Regions from separate parts of the Homo sapiens genome. Here region 2 is linked to region 1. Evidence: fine-mapped expression QTL. A gene starts in region 1. The other region holds a variant in brackets. All regions are shown on one strand. Distances are from middle to middle.

Region 1 (9,778 bases):
GAGCCCACAAAATTACAGAGATGGAGAACAGATTAGTTTCAGGAGTATGGCTATAAGGGGTAGCTTTGTGATGATGGTATAGTTCTGTATCTTGACTGAGGTAGGGAACCGGTTACACAAAGCTACAGGTGCTAAACTGCATAGAACCACACACACACACGTGCATGTCGATCTAACGAAATCTGAATATGCCTGGTGGTGTGTACCAGTGTCTGTTTCCTGGTGTTGAATATGTCCTGTAGTTATGCAAGATGTCCACATTAAGAAAGGTAGGGCACCAGGCACAGTGGCTCACGCCTGTAATCCCAGCACTTTGGGAGGCCGAGGCCGGTGGATCACGAGGTCAGGAGACCGAGACCATCCTGGCTAACACGGTGAAACCCCGTCTCTACTAAAAATACAAAAAATTAGCCGGGCGTGGTGGCGTGCACCTGTAGTCCCAGCTACTCGGGAGGCTGAGGCAGCAGAATGGTGTGAACCCGGGAGGCGGAGCTTGCAGTGAGCCGAGATCGCGCCACTGCACTCCAGCCTGGGCGACAGAGCGCAACTCCGTCTCAAAAAAAAAAAAATTCTAAAACTGGGACTAAATAAAAGGACTAGAATTTTTTTAATGCCAATTTAAAAAAAAAGAAACAGTTTATTAACTCTCACACACTGAATGCATGCTGACCAAATGCAGTGGCCGCTGGGTTGACGTCAATCAGAAAGGATGAAGTTAATTTTAGGAGACATTAAGTTAGTTCACTACCTGAGCCACAAAAGCTACAACTTTGAGGGGCAGAGCTTGACACGAGGCACCTTTTCAAATCCTGGAGCATATTCATTGCTGCCTATGCTAAGAGGAGTAATGCCCCAAGCCAGTCTGCTGGGAGTGGGTTACTTGAAGTGAAAACAGAGCATCCTAGTGTCCACATGCTCCCTGTCCGCTACCTCAGATACTTGGCACAGGGCTTTTTTTTTTTTTTTTTTTTTTTGAGACAGAGTCTCGCTCTGTCACCCAGGCTGGAGTGCAATGGCACAATCTCAGCTCACTGCAAGCTCCGCCTCCTGGGTTCAAGCGATTCTTCCGCCTCAGCCCCCGGAGTAGCTGGGACTACAGGTGCATGCCACCACGCCCAGCTAATGTTTGTATTTTTGTGGAAACAGTGTTTCCCTATGTTGGCTAGGCTGGTCTTGAACTCCTGACCTCAGGTGATCCGCCCACCTCAGCCTCCCAAAGTGCTGGGATTACAAGCGTGAGCCACCGCACCCGGCTGGCACCAGGTCTTGGAGGGGAAAAACTTTTTTTTTGAGGCAGGGTCTCAATCTGCTCCTCAGGCTGCCCAGGCTGGAGTGCAGTGGCGCAATCCGAGTTCATGGCAGCCTCAACCTCCAGGGCTCAGACAATGCTCTCACCTCAGCCCACTGAGTAACTGGGACCACAGGTGCGTGCCACCACGCCTGGCTAATTCTTTTTTCTCTTTTGAAAAGACAGGGGTCTCACTATATTGCCCAGGCTAAAGGAGGAAAACTTAAGAAACTGGTCAGAAAGACGCAAATTTGGAGCTGAAACAGGCTTTAACGATATTTCAGCTCAAAATCCGCCCCTTCAAGCGTCAGCTGAGGAAACTGAGGCTCCGTGGCTAGTGGCCTCCACTCACGCAGCTTTAATGATATTTCAGCTGAAAATCCAGCCCTTCAACTGTCCGCTGTGGAAACTGAGGCTCCATGGCCAGTGGCCTCCACTCATGCAGCTGCTAAGAGGCAGAGTCAGGGTCAAGAGCCTTGGCTGTTGGCTCAGAGTCCTCTTTCCACAGGGCCCGACTACTCCTATCATTCACTCTCATGACAGGAAAACAGCACACAAAATCAGAGCTGGCCAGGGAAAGGGGAAGCGGGGACCCCTCTGCCTGTGACATGGAGGTCAAGTTCAGATCAGCTCAAACCCTGGCTGGCTCTCCAATCCCGTCTCCAGGCACCAGCCAACATTCATTAACTCAATACGTATATACATTAATTATTTGCTGTTCCTCTAATACCTTCTTGGTCTTCTGCCTGAATTGCCCAAGAATCACCTTCCTTGTGAGGTCTTCTCTGGCATGCACCTCGCATGCCAGACGCTCGCCATGAGGAGAACAGCAGGAAAAATGTGATGAGCAAGATAGGGTGCGCACCTTGTAGAGGCCACCCTAGAGGGCAGTGGGGGAGATGGGGCCACTCAGGTGAAAAGCAGCACCACAAGCTGAAGACACTGCCCAGGAGGAGAATGGTGGGCGCTGCAGCTGATGAGAGGCCATCCAACAGCAATGAGGGAAAGAGGATTCCGAGAAAGGGGCCGTATTAAAGAGACCTGGCTCCCCCAGCTAGGACTAAGCACCCCTTCTTCTACGAGCTCCTTCAGGGGAGGGGCTGTGTTATTCAATGGGATACACTAGTGGTTCTCGACGGCGGACAACTTTGCCCTAAGGGCACATTTGTCAATGCCTGGAGACATTGTTCCTTATCACAACTAAGGCAACTGGTGCTGCTATAAACATCCTAAAAGGCACAGAACAGTTCCCCACAATAAAGTGTGATCCAGCCCCAAATGTCAGCTCTGCTGAGTTGGAGAAAGTCTGGTCTATATAGTCAAGTATTTTATAGAGTACAGCAGTTTCCCCATATCCACAGGTATACGTTCCAAGGCACTCAGTGGGTGCCTGAAACTTCAGATGATACTAAATCCTATACAAGCTGCTTTTTTCCCACACATACCTATGAAAAAGTCTAACTTACAGATTAGGCACAGTAAGAGATTAACAGAAGCCAATAATAAAAAAGAACTGTAATGATATACTGTAATAAAAGTTATATGAATGTGGTCTCTTTAAATATCTTATTGTACTATGCTCACCTATTTTCAGATCACCAGAGGTAACTGAAACCTCAGAAGGTGAAACCACAAATAAGGGAGGACGGCTATACCGCACTCACTGTGGTAGGCGCCATCCTGTCAAACGCAGGCCCTGGCACAGACAATATATCTGACAAGTGGGTGACTTGCTGTCTGAGGAAATGGCTTTCAATCTCATTGTCCTGCCTAACGCAATTTTCTTCAAAAATGGAAGGACAGACATCATAGCGCATTTAAGGGTACTCAGTCTTTGTCCCAGAGGTCCCCTTAAGAAATAATACACACACTTAGTTTTACAAAATGCATGTTGGTCTCATTATGTAACAAACAAAGAGAAAAAATGCTACTCGTAAAAGTGCTGATCTGAGGGTGTTTCTAAGCCTTTTTTTTTTTTTTTTTTTTTTTTGTGAGAAAGGTCTCACTCTGTCACCCAGGCTGGAGTATGGCGCGATCTCAGCTCACTGCAGCCTTAACCTCCTGGGGTCAAGTGATCCTCCTCTCTCAGCCTCCCAAGTAGCTGGGACTATAGATGTGTACACCAATACGCCCAGCTAATTTTCGTATTTTTTTGTAGAGACAGGGTGTTACCACATTGCCCAGGCTGGTCTCAAACTTCTGGGCTCAAAAGATCCACCTGCCTCAGCCTCCCAAAATGCTGGGACTATAGGTTTGAGCCACCGCACCCAGCTCTATGCTTTTTTTTTTTTTTTTTAACAGAGTACAGGAAGGGTTAGATGGTCCTCTACCCTTCCACAGAGTGTGGGAGAACCACTATCCTCCTGATCCTCCATCCCGTCTAAGGAGATGAGAATTCAAAGGGAAGATCACAACAGTCCCTCAAAATACACATTAAAAATTATGAGGGTGCCGTGGCTCACGCCAGTAACCCCAGGACTTTGGGAGGCCAAGACAGGTGGATCACTTGAGCTCAGGATTTCGAGACCAGCCTAGGCAACATGGCGAGACCCCCCCATCTCTACAAAAAACACGAAAATCAGCCAGGCATGGTGGTGGTGCACGCTTGTAGTCCCAGTGACTCCGGAGGCTGAGGTGGTAGGATCACTTGAGGTGGGAGGTTGAGTGCGCCGTGATGGAACTACTGCGCTCCAGCCTGAGAGCCAGAGCAAGACCCTGTCTCAAAAAAAAGAAAAACAAAAATCATGAAGTCAACTATTTGCTGGATAACAAGGAAAAAAATCAACGCAGCAGACAGGAAACTGGCTTTGTTTCTCCCTCAAATTAAATAAGGAGATGGCCTCTGAAAGCCAAGAGGAGGTTCTGCACACCAAAGTCAAATTAATTGGTGGACCGGTGCACCCACCCAGCCACCCTGCACATCCTTCTAACAGGCCCAGCCTTCCTGGCTTGTTTAACGGTTTGGTGTGGATTTTTCCCACCCCGAGGGGACAGGCACGGGGCTGAGAACGAGGTCTGTGATTGGAGCAGCAGGCAGCGAGGCCATCCCACACCCCGACTGCTGCTCGTGTCCAGATTCCCTCCGGGAATGAGTCATTTTAATCGTCGTAGGTGAGATCTAATCAGGGGTTAATAAGCCTCCAGAACCCAGGTCACAAAGCTGTTTCCTGGGAAGACACTGATTTCCAGATTTCTGCTCCCAAAGCTAAAATCCACGCCGTTTTGGAAAACGCTGGGTTAAACGCTCCAGTACTAGAAAGACCAAGGTGACATCATGCTGGGGAGGGGCGTCTTGGCCCGGAACCCCCTTGGTGGTGCCGCAGCCCCCCGCACGGACCAGCAAACGGGAGTGGAGATGTGGATGAAGGGCCGTGCCCTAAACCCCTAGACCCCGCACCCCTAGACCCTGGACACCCCACCCCGCACCCCCAGACCCAGGGCCCCGCTCTGCATCCTGACCCGCACCCCCATACCCGATACCCCAAGACTCTGAGCGCCGCCCGCACCCCCAGACCCTGGACCCCCACCCCGCACCCTGGCCCCCACCCCCAGACCCGGTACCCCAAGACCCCGAGCGCCGCCCGCACCCTCAGGCCCCGGGCCCCGCCCGCATCCCAGCCTGCACCCCCGCCTCGAGGCCCCGCCCCGGGCCTCCGCTCCCAGACCCCGTCTCCGCCGGCGGCCCCGGCCCCGGCCCCACGCCGCCCCCGCCACTCACAGTTGCGGATATCCGAGATGAAGACCGCCAGGCCCCGCATCCCGTCCCCCTTGGACACGGCCGGCATCTTCCGACGCTCGGGAGCGGCCTCGGCTGGCGGACCCGGGCGGAGGAGCGCGGGGAGCGGGAAGCGGGGAGTGCGGTCGCCGTCACCGCCGCGGAGGAGCCGCCGGGGAGCCGCCTAACCACGGCCGCCTCAGGGTCCCAGCGCCGCTTTCTGGGCCGCCGCGCGCGCGCACGTACGGCGCCCGCACCAGCACGCACGCGCACGCACGCGAGCGACGACGGACGGCGGCCGGGGCGGGTGTCGCGTGAGGCAGCGCGCGCGCGTCCGCGGCACGGGGGCGAGCCGGTCGAGGCAGGCGCGGGGGCGCCCCCTGCAGGCGGACACCATGGACGGAGCCGCTGAAGCCACGCGTTCGCGTCCCGGGGCCGCGCCAAGCTGGCGATGCCGCCCGCGTCCCCCACGGGAAGGGCGTGGGTCCGGGCGGGAACCCGCGTGTGCAGCGGGCCGCCTCTGTCGTTGTTGGTGGTCACTGCAAAAGAGGCGGCCACGCAGGCACACGCGTACGGCCTCGTCCTGGGCCTCGGCCCCGCTAGCTTGCCCCGAGCAGTCTCCGTTTTCTTACTTGGAATAAACGACCTGTGAGCGCTGGGCGGCGGGGCAGCTCCGAGGCCAGGGCCTTGTTTGTTCCGCGGGGGCCGGGGCGGGAGGGCGGCGCCGGGAGGAAGCTGGGGCTCCAGGCGAAGGGGTCACAGCCGCTGGACGGCCTTTGGCGAGGAAACCCTCCCCTAGCACGGTATCCTGAGACGGTGGGGCTGGCCCGCCCCTCCTGCCGCCCTGAGCCGCCAGGGCCACATCTCTTGCGGTCCCTGAGCTGGGGGCGAGGCAGGCCCCGTGCCCGACCCAGCCCAGGGTCTGTGTGGCAGCCCAGGTGCCCCCTCCACATCACCTGGGCCTGCAGAGAAACAACCACCCACCCCACCCCAGTGACAGCGGCCGGGGGCGGCAGCCCCTGCGGAATCTAGTCCCTCGGCGGCGCCAGGACTTTTGGCCACTGTTGCCAGGGCCCCCTCTGCTCCCCAGCCCTCTGCACCACTGCAAGCTGGAGGCCTAGGCCCACCCCTGTGGACACATCGCAAGGGAGGACCTGCTGGGCCAGGCTGCACAGCTCCAGGTCCCGGCCAGGAAGAGACCCCAGGGAGTGGGGAAGCAGATGGCCCTGCCTCACTGTCCTTCCCAGAGCCAGATGGCTTTGAACAGGAAGCTCCCTCCTGCTGCAGTGGGGGGATCTGGACCCTGTACCTGGAACTGGCCCAGACCCACCAGCCAGGGCTTTGTCCCCACCCTGGCTCACTTCCGCAGCCCCAGATGAGAGCTTAGCCCTGGTGGAGCCCGGCCAGGAGGAGGGCACAGGACCCATGCCCCTCCCCAATGAACCGGGTGCCGCACCCAGGCTCTGGGCCTCCAGAACTCCTGGGGAAAACCAAGATCTGTGACAGACCCCAGTCAGCATAAGGCAACCAAGTCCATCACTTCCCAAGACAGAGGCACGGAGCCGACCCAGCAGAGGGCTTCCTGGAGGACGGTACACCCCTCCGGAGTCCCTATCCTCTCCCAGTGCCACCTCCTGGCAGAGAAAGTGGTCCCGGGGCTGTTCATTCTTCAGCCTCTCCCTTCCACCAAGAAGCTTCCCTCCCCTGTCCCTGACAACAAATAAAGGCCATTCTGGACACAAGAGCATCTTGTGCCATGTGAGGGGTCCTGGGCTGCTCTCCAGGACAGTCCCAGCAGTCACGAGGACCGTCCACTAACACACGTGGGCAGAGCATGGGCTCTGGGCGTCAGGAGGCTGGCATGCCTAATCCAAGCTCCCATTGGCAGTGGCAGTGCAGAAGACCGAGACAAGCAGACCACTGTGCCCCCCCACCAGCAGCCACTCACAGAGCAGGGCAATGGGGGTGCTGCAGGGGCTGCCCACAGGAGGGCTTGGGCCTGGCAGGCATCCCCCTCCGCCCACTCGGAAGACTCCTCCTCAGTGCCAGCTCTGGGATTCCCACAGACATCCTCCCGTCCACACAAGAGTGTTTAGGGGTCCCAGAAGGCCCGACATGCAGCCATGCAAAAGACTTCCCACCTCCTTCCAGCGTCGTTGCCCTTGCAGACACGCAAGCCCTCCAGATGATTCACTCCAGTCCCAGCCTTGGGTCTGAGTCCATGTGGGCCTCTCTGACCACTGCCACTCCTCGGCTCGGGAGAGGCCAGCTTCGGGAGTGCGCAGTCCTAGGAAACAGTTTCTTTTTCTTTATTTTATTTTTTGTAGTGATGGCATTTCACCACGGTGCCCAGGCCGGTCTTGAACTCCTGTAATCCCAGCATTCCGCCTGCCTGTGTCTCCCAAAGTGCTGGGATTACAGATGCAAGCCACTATGCCTGGCCTATTTATTTATTTATTTATGTTTAATTTTAGAGACAGGGTTTCTCCCTTTGACTCCCAGGCTGGAGTGCAGTGGTACAATCATGAATCACTACAGCCTCGACCTTCTGGGCTCAAACCATCCTCCTGCCTTGGCTCCCAAAGTGCTTAGACTGCAGGTGCACGCCACCACACCTGGCTAAGTTTCTGATTTTTGTGGAGATGGAGTCTCACTATGTTGCCCAGGCTGGTCTTGAACTCCTGGGCTCAAGCAGTCCTCCTGCCTTGGCTTCCCAAAGTGCTGAGATTACAAGCCACTGTGCCTAGCCTCAGTATCTTTCTTTTTTTTTTTTTTTCTTCCTTGAGATGGAGTCTTGCTCTGTCGCCCAGGCTGGAGTGCAATGGCATGATCTCGGCTCACTGCAACCTCCACCTCCCGGATTCAAGCGATTCTCCTGCCTCAGCCTTCTCAGTAGCTGGGATTACAGGCACGCACCATCACGCCCGGCTAATTTTTTGTATTTTTAGCAGAGGTGGAGTTTCACCATGTTGGCCAGGATGGTCTCAATCTCCTGACCTCATGATCCGCCCTCCTCGGCCTCCCAAAGTGCTGGGATTACAGGCGTGAGCCACCGCGCCCAGCCATTTCTTAAATTATTTGAACGTTTGTCATACTTTAGCCACGCAAGGTCACAGTACTATTCCCAAGGGCAGAGGTGGGGACGAGTCGCTTTCCTTCATCCACAGCCATGGGGAAGCCAGGGTCCACAGATACAAGCCCGACGTGGGCATCATGAAGGGAAAACAGGCTGGGGCCCCAAGCTGCGGTGTGGAGGTGCTGTCTCACTGCAGCAGGGTTCCCCAACATATAGCCCCTGCAGCGTTAGCTGGCCATGCCCTGGGTCCTACCCAGACCTGAACATGTCTGTTTTACAAATGACCCAGTTTCCTTCTCATCATCTCTGGCGTAAGTTGCAGACAATGACCCTTCCAGAAGAGGGTCTGGCAGCATGTTCCATGTACAGTTGGTCCCTGTGCACTCATGAGAGTTCAGGGACAATGAGGTGGCATGCTCAGACCCTGTGGCCCCCCCGTGATCATCTGAGCACCTGCAGTCCCCAGGAGTGACATGCTCAGGGAAGGCTGTGGGAACTGACTGTCCCCTGCCATGGAAGGGTGGGAGGCATGAGGGGTGCATTCTGGAACTCTGCGGTGGGTGGGTGCGTCAGGTATAGCCAGCCCACCTGAAGGAGGAGAAGATGAGCTCAGGCTCCTGAGTGCTCATCACGGGGCGGGTGGGAGCTGCCATGACCACACATCTTTCTCACCACTGCAAAGCCGGAGGAATACAAAGCCATTCACAGCTGGGCCCAGACAGCAGCAAAACAGCCACCAGGGTGGGAGGTGCAGCCTCCCCAGACGTCTGGCGGGAGAGCTGCAGTGCTGTGCGGGGCCCAGAGAACTGGCATGGGGTAAATTCGATAACCTGGGACCCCAAGCCCCACTTCCCAAGAGTCCCCGCCCAGCTCAGCCCTTGATCCTGAGTCAGGCCCCAACACATCCACACCCACAATCGCACAGAGGGGGATGACTGGGCACCTGTGAACAGCGGGAAGCTGAGTTTCTGTCAACAAAACCCCACAGAACACTTGTAGGATGGCTTTTGAGACACAGGCCCCGGACAACAGCTGGGTCCTTTGCAGCACCCACGGTGTCTGGATCAACTGAGCCAGCCTGGCAGCCCAGGGTCCGTCCGGCTGCTGCTGGGCCAAATTCCTGGAAGCTACATGCAGGGCAGCCCCTAAAACATGGTTACAATGACAGAAATCCCTGGACATAATGCAGAAAAAGGGGCTCAGAGGACTCAGGGACTGAACCTGCCCAGCTTCTCCTAAGGAGACCCTTCCTGCCAAAGGCTTGGAGATGTGTAACTTGCACAAGGCCAGCACCTTCACAGGCTCTCAGGGCCGTCCTCTGAGGCTGTGGGGGTGCAGCCACATCAGCAGGCCCCCTGCTCTCAAAGGAGAAGGGCAGCTCGGGGTGACTAAGGCCAAGGAGGCCAGACACCCCACTAGGTGGCAGGGTGATGACATCATCAAGGTCTGTCCCAAGCAGCCCCTAGTACGGGTTACCGGCTCAGGGCACCCTTGGGCCAACAGAGGGGCAGCCCTCTAAGCTCCTGCATAAGATGTGTGGTCAAGGCCAGGCACGGTGGCTCACACCTGTAATCCCAGCACATTGGGAGGCCGAGGCGGGGGGATCGGGGGATCATGAGGTCAAGAGATCAAGACCATCCTGGCCAACATGGTGAAACCCCGTCTCTACTAAAAATACAAAAATTAACTGGGCATGGTG
Region 2 (9,778 bases), 71 kb before region 1:
CTGTTTTCAGCCCAAGCGGCGACCTGCACCCACCACCACGCCGGCCTGCCTCTCCTAAGTCCTTTCCCAACACGTAACAGGAAACAGAACTCACGTGCAACATGAATACAAAGAACTGAAAAACACCAGAACTCTATTACAGTCTTCAAAATGGGGGGCCAAAAGGCCATTCCTCAAAGGCTCTCTAACCTCCATCTGGGACAGAAACCGGCACCTGCGCTCCCACCCCACAGGGCAGCAGGGGAGAGGCGTCAACTCCAGGAAAGGGGGCACCTCAGACCTCCGGCCAGACATGAAAACAAGCAGATGGCTGAGAGCAGCCAGTAAGCGGAATGCACAGCTGATGAGCCCAGCAGAGAGGGCTGGGGAGAGCACGTGCGGGGGAAAGTGGTCAGCACCGACGATCTGAAGACCACGGAGACACTGGCAGAGACCACTGCACACAGGGAGCCGGGAGGTGCCCAGGCACCGGACAGAAATTAGAGCAGGACAAGCAGCAAAGACAGGCTGCCCTCAGGGGGAACCACAGGGTGGAGGCCGAAGGCGTGAGCAGGGTGGGCCTCACAGAAGGACTTAGCAAGTGAGCAACTCAAGGACAAGAGACCGGGCCTCCAGGACAGACACAGACAAGACGGCTTAAGTCAGAATGAAAAGCAGCCCAACTAGACAGGAAAGAGGCGAAGAGAGGAGACGTGTAGCTACAAAGAGTGTTTATCAACACTCAAACAGCAGCTGAAACATGATCGGACATCACCGTGCAGACAGGACACAACCACCACCCAGACAGTGTGTTTCTTTCATGTCCTCCTTTTCCTCCTGAGAGTAATGAACACTGCAGTCCATATAAATCAAGGTTGTGAGAGGAATGACACAGCAAACCCACCCACAACACAGCAGCTCCCGCTCTCTCCCCCAGGCAGTAATCTGGGAGGTAAACTCCGCTGCCCACCTCTGTCCAGCTGGCCGCGGCCACACCAGAAGTCAGGGGGCACGGCAGCCCCGTGCCTGTCTGCAGGACTCAGGAAACCTGACTACCTGGCAAAGTTGTCTTCGGAGCCAGGAGCGAGAGGCGCGACCACAGAGGCCGAGTCTGAGAACACGTCCACGAGCAGCCCGCTGCCGCCGGAGGAGGGTGGGGGGCCCGCGGGGGCAGGGGGGGCAGCCCCGAGACCCAGCAGGTCTGCCGACGGAGAAGGCGTAGACTGGAAGAGAAGGAAGGAGAGCATCAGCAGAGAGCCTCCCTGGCCTGGCCAACCCCAGGCAGCTCACGCCTGCACGTCCTCCCCCATGGCACCCCCTTGGCATCCATGCACTCCCAGTGGCTGGGGCAGGTGGCACACAACTCAGTGAGTGACCAGAGAGTGAGGGCTAACAGCCACTTCCTGAGTATATCCCAGACTCCAGCCTAAAGATAACTGCACTTAAAACATCAGTCATAATTTCACTAAGGCACCCTACATTTTTTCACAAATGCTATTTGAATGAAAAAAATTCTCAAAAAAATTTTGCCATGAAAGACATAAAAAAAGGCCAGACGCGGTGGCTCACACCTGTCATCCCAGCACTTTGGGAGGCCGAGGTGGGCGGATCACGAGGTCAGGAGATCGAGACCACCCTGGCTAACACGGTGAAACCCCATCTCTACTAAAAAATACAAAAAAAATTAGCCGGGCGTGGTGGTGGGCGCCTGTAGTCCCAGCTACTCGGGAGGCTGAGGCAGGAGAATGGTGTGAACCCGGGAGGCGGAGCTTGCAGTGAGCCGAGATCGCACCACGGCACTCCAGCCTGGGCGACAGAGCGAGACTCCATCTCAAAAAAAAAAAAAAAAAAGAAAGAACTAAGATCATGCATGTTACTGCCAACTGTCCAATAAGAAAGTAAGCTTCCAAAGATGAAAAAGCAAATAACTTACTCGGGTGCATTATTAATCATTAAATTATTACTAAATCATTATTAATCATTAAAAGTCTACAGAACGGATACTTTTAAAAAATAATTGCTTTTTGGCTGGGCATGGTGCCCCACACCTGTAATCCCAGCACTTTGGAAGGTTGAGACAGAAAGACTGCTTGAGTCCAGGAGTTTAAAACTAGCCTGGGCAACATAGCAAGAGACTGTCTCTGTTTTTGTTTTTTTTGAGACAGTCTCACTCTATTGCCCAGGCTGGAGTGCACTGGTGTGGGCTCACTGCAACCTCCACCTCAAGCGATTCTCCTGCCTCAGCCTCCCAAGTAGCTGGGATTACAGGTGGCCGCCATCACGCCCAGTTAATTTTTGTATTTTCAGTGGAGACAGGGTTTCACCATGTTGGCCAGGTTGGTCTCGAACTCTTGACCTCAGGTGATACGTTCACCTCGGCCTCCCATGAGCCACCGCACCCGGCCCCAGTAATTGCTCTTTGATCCTGGGGCAAAGGCACAAGGAAAGAGCGCCTATGATCTCATGATTAAACTCTCACAACAGGGCACAAGCAGCAGCTCAGTCCATCGCATGCTCACCCATCCAACAGGGCAGCAGGCTCCCCAGCAATGCCCCAGCAGCCTGACTTTGGGAGCTCAGACCTGCTCTGGGCTCCACGGGTCCTGCCCCACAGCAGCCTGTGCACCAGAGGGACTCAGATGCTCCCTATAAAAAGGACACCCAGCCTGGCACGGTGGCTCACACCTGTAATCCCAGCACTTTGGGAGGCCGAGGGGGGCAGATCCCAAGGTCAGAAGATTGAGACCATCCTGGCCAACATGGTGAAACCCCGTCTCTACTAAAAATACAAAAATTAGCTGGGTGTGGTGGCACACGCCTGTAATCCCAGCTACTCAGGAGGTGGAGGCAGGAGAACTGAAACCAGGAGGCGGAGATTGCAGTGAGCCAAGATCGTACCACTGAACTACAGCCTGGCAACACTCACACTTTGACACTATACACCAGGGGCTCTTGGTGGAGAAACCCCCCACCCAGCTAAGAGCGTTCTGGAGATGTGGAGGGCTCTGACTATCACAAGGATATTGGCATTTCACAGGCAAAAAACAGAGACACAAGACACCCTAACTTGAAGATTCGTCTTGAGTAACTTTAGAATGTTCCACTGGACATCTAAGAAGGTAAAAAATTAGTTTGTAATTATCTGAGACTCCACCTGAATGCCATTTTACATTAATGCAAAGTTAAGGTGTCACACTGTACTTTCAAAAAAACTACATGTGTGGGTTTGTGATATATGAATTTTACTCAAAGATAAATGAGGCATCACAAAGTGTGTTATGCAAAAAAGGTGCAGGTCAGAATGGGGGCGGGGGGTCAGAATGGGGGCGGGTGAGAGTCAGAATGGGGATTGGGGGGCAGTCAGAAACGGGGCAGGCTCCCAGGCTCTGCTCTTGTGACGGAGCACCTCTGCAAGAGAAGACGACACGGGTCTCATGTGCTCCAAGGGTGGGAGGTCACAGAGGAGCTGGCAGAGAAGAGTCCCAAAAATATCCAAGGCGTGTCTCGATGAGACCATCTGAAGGCGGCGCTTTGCTCCCTACGCCGGGGACAGCGCCCGCCAACACTGTGGCCTCCACAGCCTGACAAAGCTGTGAGCTGCGTGGGAAGCCATCGGCCTTGGCCATGGCCATGCACCTGCAGCCCAAATGGAGACAGTTTCTCCTCTGCATCTCATCACAGATGTTACCCTGGTTCCTGCACTGATTCAAATACATCTATGGCTTTTATTTTATTTTATTTTATTTTTTTGAGACCGAGTCTCACTCTGTTACCCAGGCTGGAGTGCAGTGGTGCAATCTCAGCTCACTGCAACCTCCGCCTTCTGGGTTCAAGCAATTCTCCTGCCTCAGCTTCCCGAGCAGCTGGGATTACAGGCACACACCACCACACCTGGCTAATTTTTGTATTTTTAGAAGAGACGGGGTTTCACCATGTTGGCCAGGCTGGTCTCAAACTCCTGACCTCAAGTGATCCGCCCACCTCAGCCTCCCAAAGCGCTGGGATTACAGGTGTGAGCCACCATGCCCAGCCATCTATGGCTTTTAACTGCTTTCTAAAGTAGGAAAGCCCTTTGCCCTAGTAAAGGCATTTGTACCTGAAACGTTACCACAGATTGTAACAGCGAGGCCAGATGCAAGGCCCCAGGACAGTAGGGTCCTAACACCCACTTCAGGTTCTTCATCTTCCTTATCCTCTCAGGCCTGGGAGACCCTCCTCAGGGAGCAGGCCTGGCTCCTGGGCCACACCAGTTCACCTCCTCCCTCCAATAGCAGGACAACTTGAGGGGTGAAGGTTTTGCCTACAAGGGCCCCA[G/C]GCTCCTGCATGTGAAGCCAGGCAGCCTCTGATCCCCACACCCCTGTGCTCCCCAGCACACCCGGGGACACGCACACCACAGCCTCCCCCAAGGAGCTGTGTGCAGAAAGAGGATGCTCGGAAGAAGTAAAATGTCCTGGCCTCATCTATGATGTTAAATAAAAGACATTTTGGCCAATGTGACACCAAGATAAAGCCACTGTCTCTCGTGGGAAAGGCACATGTGCTGATGCCACCCTGAGGCCCCTTCACGGCCCATACAGAAGACCCTGAGCAAGAAAACTTCGCCAGGAGTGTCTCCCCATAGGGAGGGGCCTCTCACTGGGGCTCCCGTGAGCAATGGGAACAGATTGGAAAGCACAGGATAGCAATGACACCCACACACCATAGCTCTCGGTCAGAACAGAGGGGCCCACACACCACAGCTCTCGGTCAGGACGGAGGCGCCCACACACCACAGCTCTCAGTCAGGACGGAGGTGCCCACACACCACAGCTCTCAGCTCAGAACAGAGCTGCGTGCCTCGGCCACAGACACCTCCCTAAGGAACCCACCCGCCAGGCACCACTGACCATCAGGAGTGAAGCCACACTCAGAAAATCCACTGAATGAGCCCTGAAGGGGGAACTCCCTCCAAGAAGGCACCTTACAGAAATGCTGAACCTCACTGGACCCTCATCCTCCTTTTCAGAGGGCAGCACACTGCTCTCACTCCCAGGGTCCAGAAGCTTCCATCTGATCCCTAAGCCACACAGTCAAGGCCAGGCCCTCCAAAGTCCACCCTGAGCCTAGCCGGACAAACCTGGGTGTGATCAAAGGCCTGGGGTATGGGCACACCTCACTTCTCAGGACCCACATTAAAAAGAAACATCAAATAAGAACCAAAGAGAGACTGAAGACAATCCTACAGCCCCTTTCCATGCTCCCTCAGCGAGTTCCTCTTAACGTCAAAGCAGCTGGAGGGGAGCGAGAGCACCTGGTGCCTTCCCAGCTTCCAACAGGCAATCCCAGGTTTCCGTGGAAGACTTCACAGTGCCCTTGCTGAAAGCCGGCCTCCAGGAATCCCTGCACACCAGCCTCCCCTGGATCACGTCATCCTGCCCTCGCCTCCTCACCCAACTGGGGCCGCGTCCTCCTCTCTGCAGGGCGGAGCCGCTGCCGGCCCAGCACCCACGGGAAGGCCCCTGCTCCGGCAGCTCACAGACAAATCTCCACAAGCAAGTTTCTGCCTCCAGAAACCTATGTCAAGATGTCCAAAGGAGAGGGAGAGATGGATTAGAGGAGTGACAGAGGCCTGCTGCACTAGGCGCCTGGCTAGTGACGTCCCACGGGAGGAGACAGGGTCAAAAGCAGGTCACCAGCTCTACAGAGCACATGAGAAACATAAGCATGAAGGTGCTCAGGCGTGAAGGGAAGACGCCCACCTTGGGAGAAAGAGTCACATCTTTCATTCATTTCATTCACTCCAGGATGAGCTCACAGGCAATTCAAGCCTCCAGATGGCGGGCACAGCAGCGTGCCACAAACAACACAGAGAGAGGGCACGGGGGGACAGGGGCTGCACAGAGGACACTAGGTGGAGGGAGGGGAGAGGGAGGAAGAGGGGGAGGGAAGACTGCTCATTGAGATGTCAGGCTCAGCCTGGATACCAGCCCCATGGCAGGCCCTGCACTGTCGGCCAGAGGGGCAGGACACATGGTCAGCCGGGGCACATAAGCAGGTCCCCGCCAAGGAGTGCCAGGACTCCGACATGAGCACCCTCCCAACCAGCACACTGCCAGGGCAGGCACCACCACAGGAGCTCACCCCACAAAGCCCTGCCGATACTGGGTAGCAGCACTGGTTGCCACCACTGGACCTGCGTCCTGGAGAGACAGGTCCTCTAACTGGACAAACAGAAAGCCCGCCTGACCCCGACAGGAGCCCTCCCTGACAGTGCAGAGGGGAACAGCTGGCAAGCAGAGCCAAGCAAAAACGCAACTCTCAAAACGACACTTCTCACCTGACAAATACCACAGGACACATTCTGTTACAGGATTATTCTCATCGCATCACACATACAAGGAAAACCAGACCTAACCCAACTCACTACATAAAACCTCGAAGAGCAGGGCAGGACAGGTCCTCTCTAAATCAACAAAGCATGTGAGGACAGCTGCCTGGGTGAGGCAGTCCTGTAGGAGAGGGGACGGCCACTTCCCCTAAAACAAGGCACCACAGAGGATGTGTGAGCTGAGCTGGACAAGACGACGGTCTGAAGGAAGTGCCTTGCCCAGCAGGCACAGTGGCCCCCGGGAGAGGACAGCGGGGTGTGCAGCAGGGACAGTGGCCCCCGGGACAGGCCAGAGGGGCGTCCAGCAGGGACAGTGGCCCCCGGGACAAGCCAGCGGGGTGTGCAGCAGGGACAGTGGCCCCCAGGACAGGCCAGGGGGGCGTCCAGCAGGGACAGTGGCCCCCGGGACAGGCCAGCAGGGTGTGCAGCAGGGACAGTGGCCCCCGGGACAGGCCAGGGGGGCGTCCAGCAGGGACAGTGGCCCCCGGGACAGGCCAGCAGGGTGTGCAGCAGGGACAGTGGCCCCCGGGACAGGCCAGGGGGGCGTCCAGCAGGGACAGTGGCCCCCGGGACAGGACAACGGGGCGTCCAGCAGGGACAGTGGCCCCCGGGACAGGCCAGGGGGGCATCCAGCAGGGACAGTGGCCCCCGGGACAGGCCAGCAGGGTGTGCAGCAGGGACAGTGGCCCCCGGGACAGGACAACGGGGCGTCCAGCAGGGACAGTGGCCCCCGGGACAGGCCAGGGGGGCGTCCAGCAGGGACAGTGGCCCCCGGGACAGACAGCGGGGCGTCCAGCAGGGACAGTGGCCCCCGGGACAGGACAGCGTGGCGTCCAGCAGGGACAGTGGCCCCCAGGACAGGACAGCAGCGTGTCCAGCAGGGACAGTGGCCCCCAGGACAGGACAGCGGGGTGTCCAGAGCCACAGCCAGAGCCTGGGTTCTCAGTACATGCTCCTCCCTGACAGGCAAATGCTCTGCTGGTCCCAAGTCTTGGGGGTGAGGCCCTGACAGGTCTGGGTGCACAGTAGGTGAGGGACCCACCACGGCGCTGGTACTGGCTGGGGCAGGCTCAGGACCCCCGTTCACGTCCACACTCCTGTCCCGCTTGGTGTCCTCCAGGTCTGTCACCGTGCTGGGGCCCTTCTTCTTCTTGAGCTTTGCCAAGATGGAGGACTCCCGCTCCGGGAATGGGGGCATCTCCTCCAGCACGGTCGCCTTGGAAAGAACACAGGGTGGGACTGGTCAGAGCTCCTGGCCTCCAACCCTCAGCCAAGCCAGCCCGAAGGGCGGGGGCCTCCTACCAGAATGTCGGTGCTGGCCACGGTGCTGAGCCGCAGGTACTCCACAGCACGCTGCTGCAGCTCCACGTCTGCGTTCCTGAGCTGGCTGTCGCTGCGCAGCACGTCCTGGATGGTGGGCTTCACCTCCGGGAAGAGGTTCACGAACTTGATGTAGGTGGACAGGAGCAGCGCGCGGGTGGGGACGCTGCACAGGTGGAACTTGGAGTGCAGCAGGTGGAACTGGATCAGCGGGCTGGGGACGGGGAGGCACAACACAGGGACACCGTCGTCCCCTCGCAGGCTGCAGCACGCCCCCGCGGGGGGGGGACGGCGGCGAGACCCCCTGGCCTGCACCAGAGGCCGCTGGTCGGGACCCTCTTCCAGCTCCAGATCCCACCGCAAAGACGCCCCTTTCACTAAGTCAGCCATCAACCCCACGTCTCCATTTTCTACTAGAATCCCTGCTTTTTCTATCAACTGAAGGAAAACAAAAAGACGCCGATGGGGAGCAGAAGCGGCTCTGCGAGGCCTCACGGCAGGGCCAGCTGGTGCCTCGCCTCTTGCCACCGACCACCGAGAGGCCCGCCGGAGCGCACACAGCCCCGACTCGCAAAGGGCCTCTCACCTGGATCTCGGGTCTCCAGCTATCAAGTTTCCAAACTCCCCCAGGATGTAGCCGCCCACTTTGACCAGGTTCTCGTGGCACGCGGGAGCCTGAAGAGCCTGCGAAGCACAAACAATGAGCCGGGGTGGCAGCCAGGTGCCAGAGTTAAGGCGAGGCGGGCACGTCCTGGCGCGGTGCACCCTACACCAGCACCAGCCCCTCAGCTTCCTGGAGACCCCAGTCCAAGTGCCCATCCCTGCCTTCCTCAGCACCCTCAGTACCTGTGTCAGCAGCAAGGAACCCAAGGCTGCCACACGCTGACCTGCCCTGGAGGGAGCTGCAGCATCCACAACAGGCTCTGGCTGGGGAGGTTCTGCCAGCGTCCTCATGGCACACCCCTTGCCGGTGGCCTAACCCTCTCCGACGGACAGGGCAGGCCCCACCACGGCATGCCCCAGCATGCTCTCACACACACAGAGGCCGGCTTTCTCAGGTGGCCCCCAGAGAGCCAGAAGTTTGAGAGTTAGGGTGAGAAGAAACTGGGACTCAGCAAGGGGCACCAACAGTGGAGGAGCTAGAGCCTCAGGGAAGAGCTGAGGGGCAAGAGGGGTCAGCAACGGCCCTCGGCACCTCCACGCAGGCAGGCTGGAACCACTCACTGCTCACCTTCTGCAACTGCCCTCCACCCCATCCTTCCTGCCATCCTGCGGGCCATACCTCGAACACAGTCTTGGCCGCGTAGCCCTGCACGTCGTCCCGGTTGATGACGATCTGAATGACTCGGTACCACACCTCTTCACTCACGTAATCACCAGCAATTCGGATCAAGTTCAAGATGGTATCCACATACCAGGTGTAGTCCACCGCGTACTTCTCAGCCAGGATGGCGACCTTCAGCACCTGTGGGGGACAGGCTGCTGAGGGCCGGCACCTGCAGGCCATGGCAATCCCAAGACCAAACTGTCGTCCAAAGTCAAAGTGAGAGTTTCAGAAGCACCTCAATGTGTCTACAAAAGTTTGGGACATGGAGGAAGCTTGAACTCGATTCTCAAAAAAGCCCACGAGCCCAGAAAGTTTAAGATGCCCTGACTTAAGCAAAGAAAGCCAGGAAGAGGCGGAGACCAGTGCACAGAAGGCCACGGCCACAGCCAGGCCACCTCCCACCTGGGCCCTTCTCTCCCAAAGCCCCAGCACCTGGCGGCAGCACTCCTCTGACCTCATCACCCTAGGCTCCCGGTGGCAGCACTCCTCTGACCTCTGACTGCGCCACCCTGGGCTCCCGGCGGCCAGTGACTGCGCCACCCTGGGCTCCCGGCGGCCACTTCTCTGCTGGTTTCTTCCGGCTCTGGCCAGTCTTTCCTGCGAGCCTCACCTGGGGGTTCCCCTTCTTCCCCTCTCTGGCTCACTCTCACGGGTGCCCCCCGGAGGCACCTGCCCAGCCCACACCCACGTGGCAGCCACCCACATGGAGCTCTGCCAGGCTGTACAACACCAAACTCATCTCCCCAAAGTCACCTCGCCTGGAACCAAGCCCCCTTCGAACAGCG

The links.
Region 2: its variant is fine-mapped to the expression of AP2A2 in blood mononuclear cells (TOPMed, PIP 0.94).

What each region holds. Positions count from the first base shown.
Region 1 is chr11:921,317-931,094 of GRCh38, reverse strand. It overlaps AP2A2 (adaptor related protein complex 2 subunit alpha 2), which reads right to left and starts at 5,225. Exons shown (of 22, transcript NM_012305.4): 1 at 5,007-5,225. The coding sequence starts at 5,073. RefSeq lists a silencer at 4,874-5,413.
Region 2 is chr11:991,856-1,001,633 of GRCh38, reverse strand. AP2A2 (adaptor related protein complex 2 subunit alpha 2) reads right to left here. Exons shown (of 22, transcript NM_012305.4): 11 at 8,949-9,131; 12 at 8,253-8,350; 13 at 7,649-7,880; 14 at 7,389-7,562; 15 at 1,036-1,202. Among named protein-coding and RNA genes, the nearest start is that of MUC6, 40 kb to the left of the region's middle. RefSeq lists an enhancer at 6,826-7,350. The variant G/C (reference allele first, on the strand shown) is at 4,294.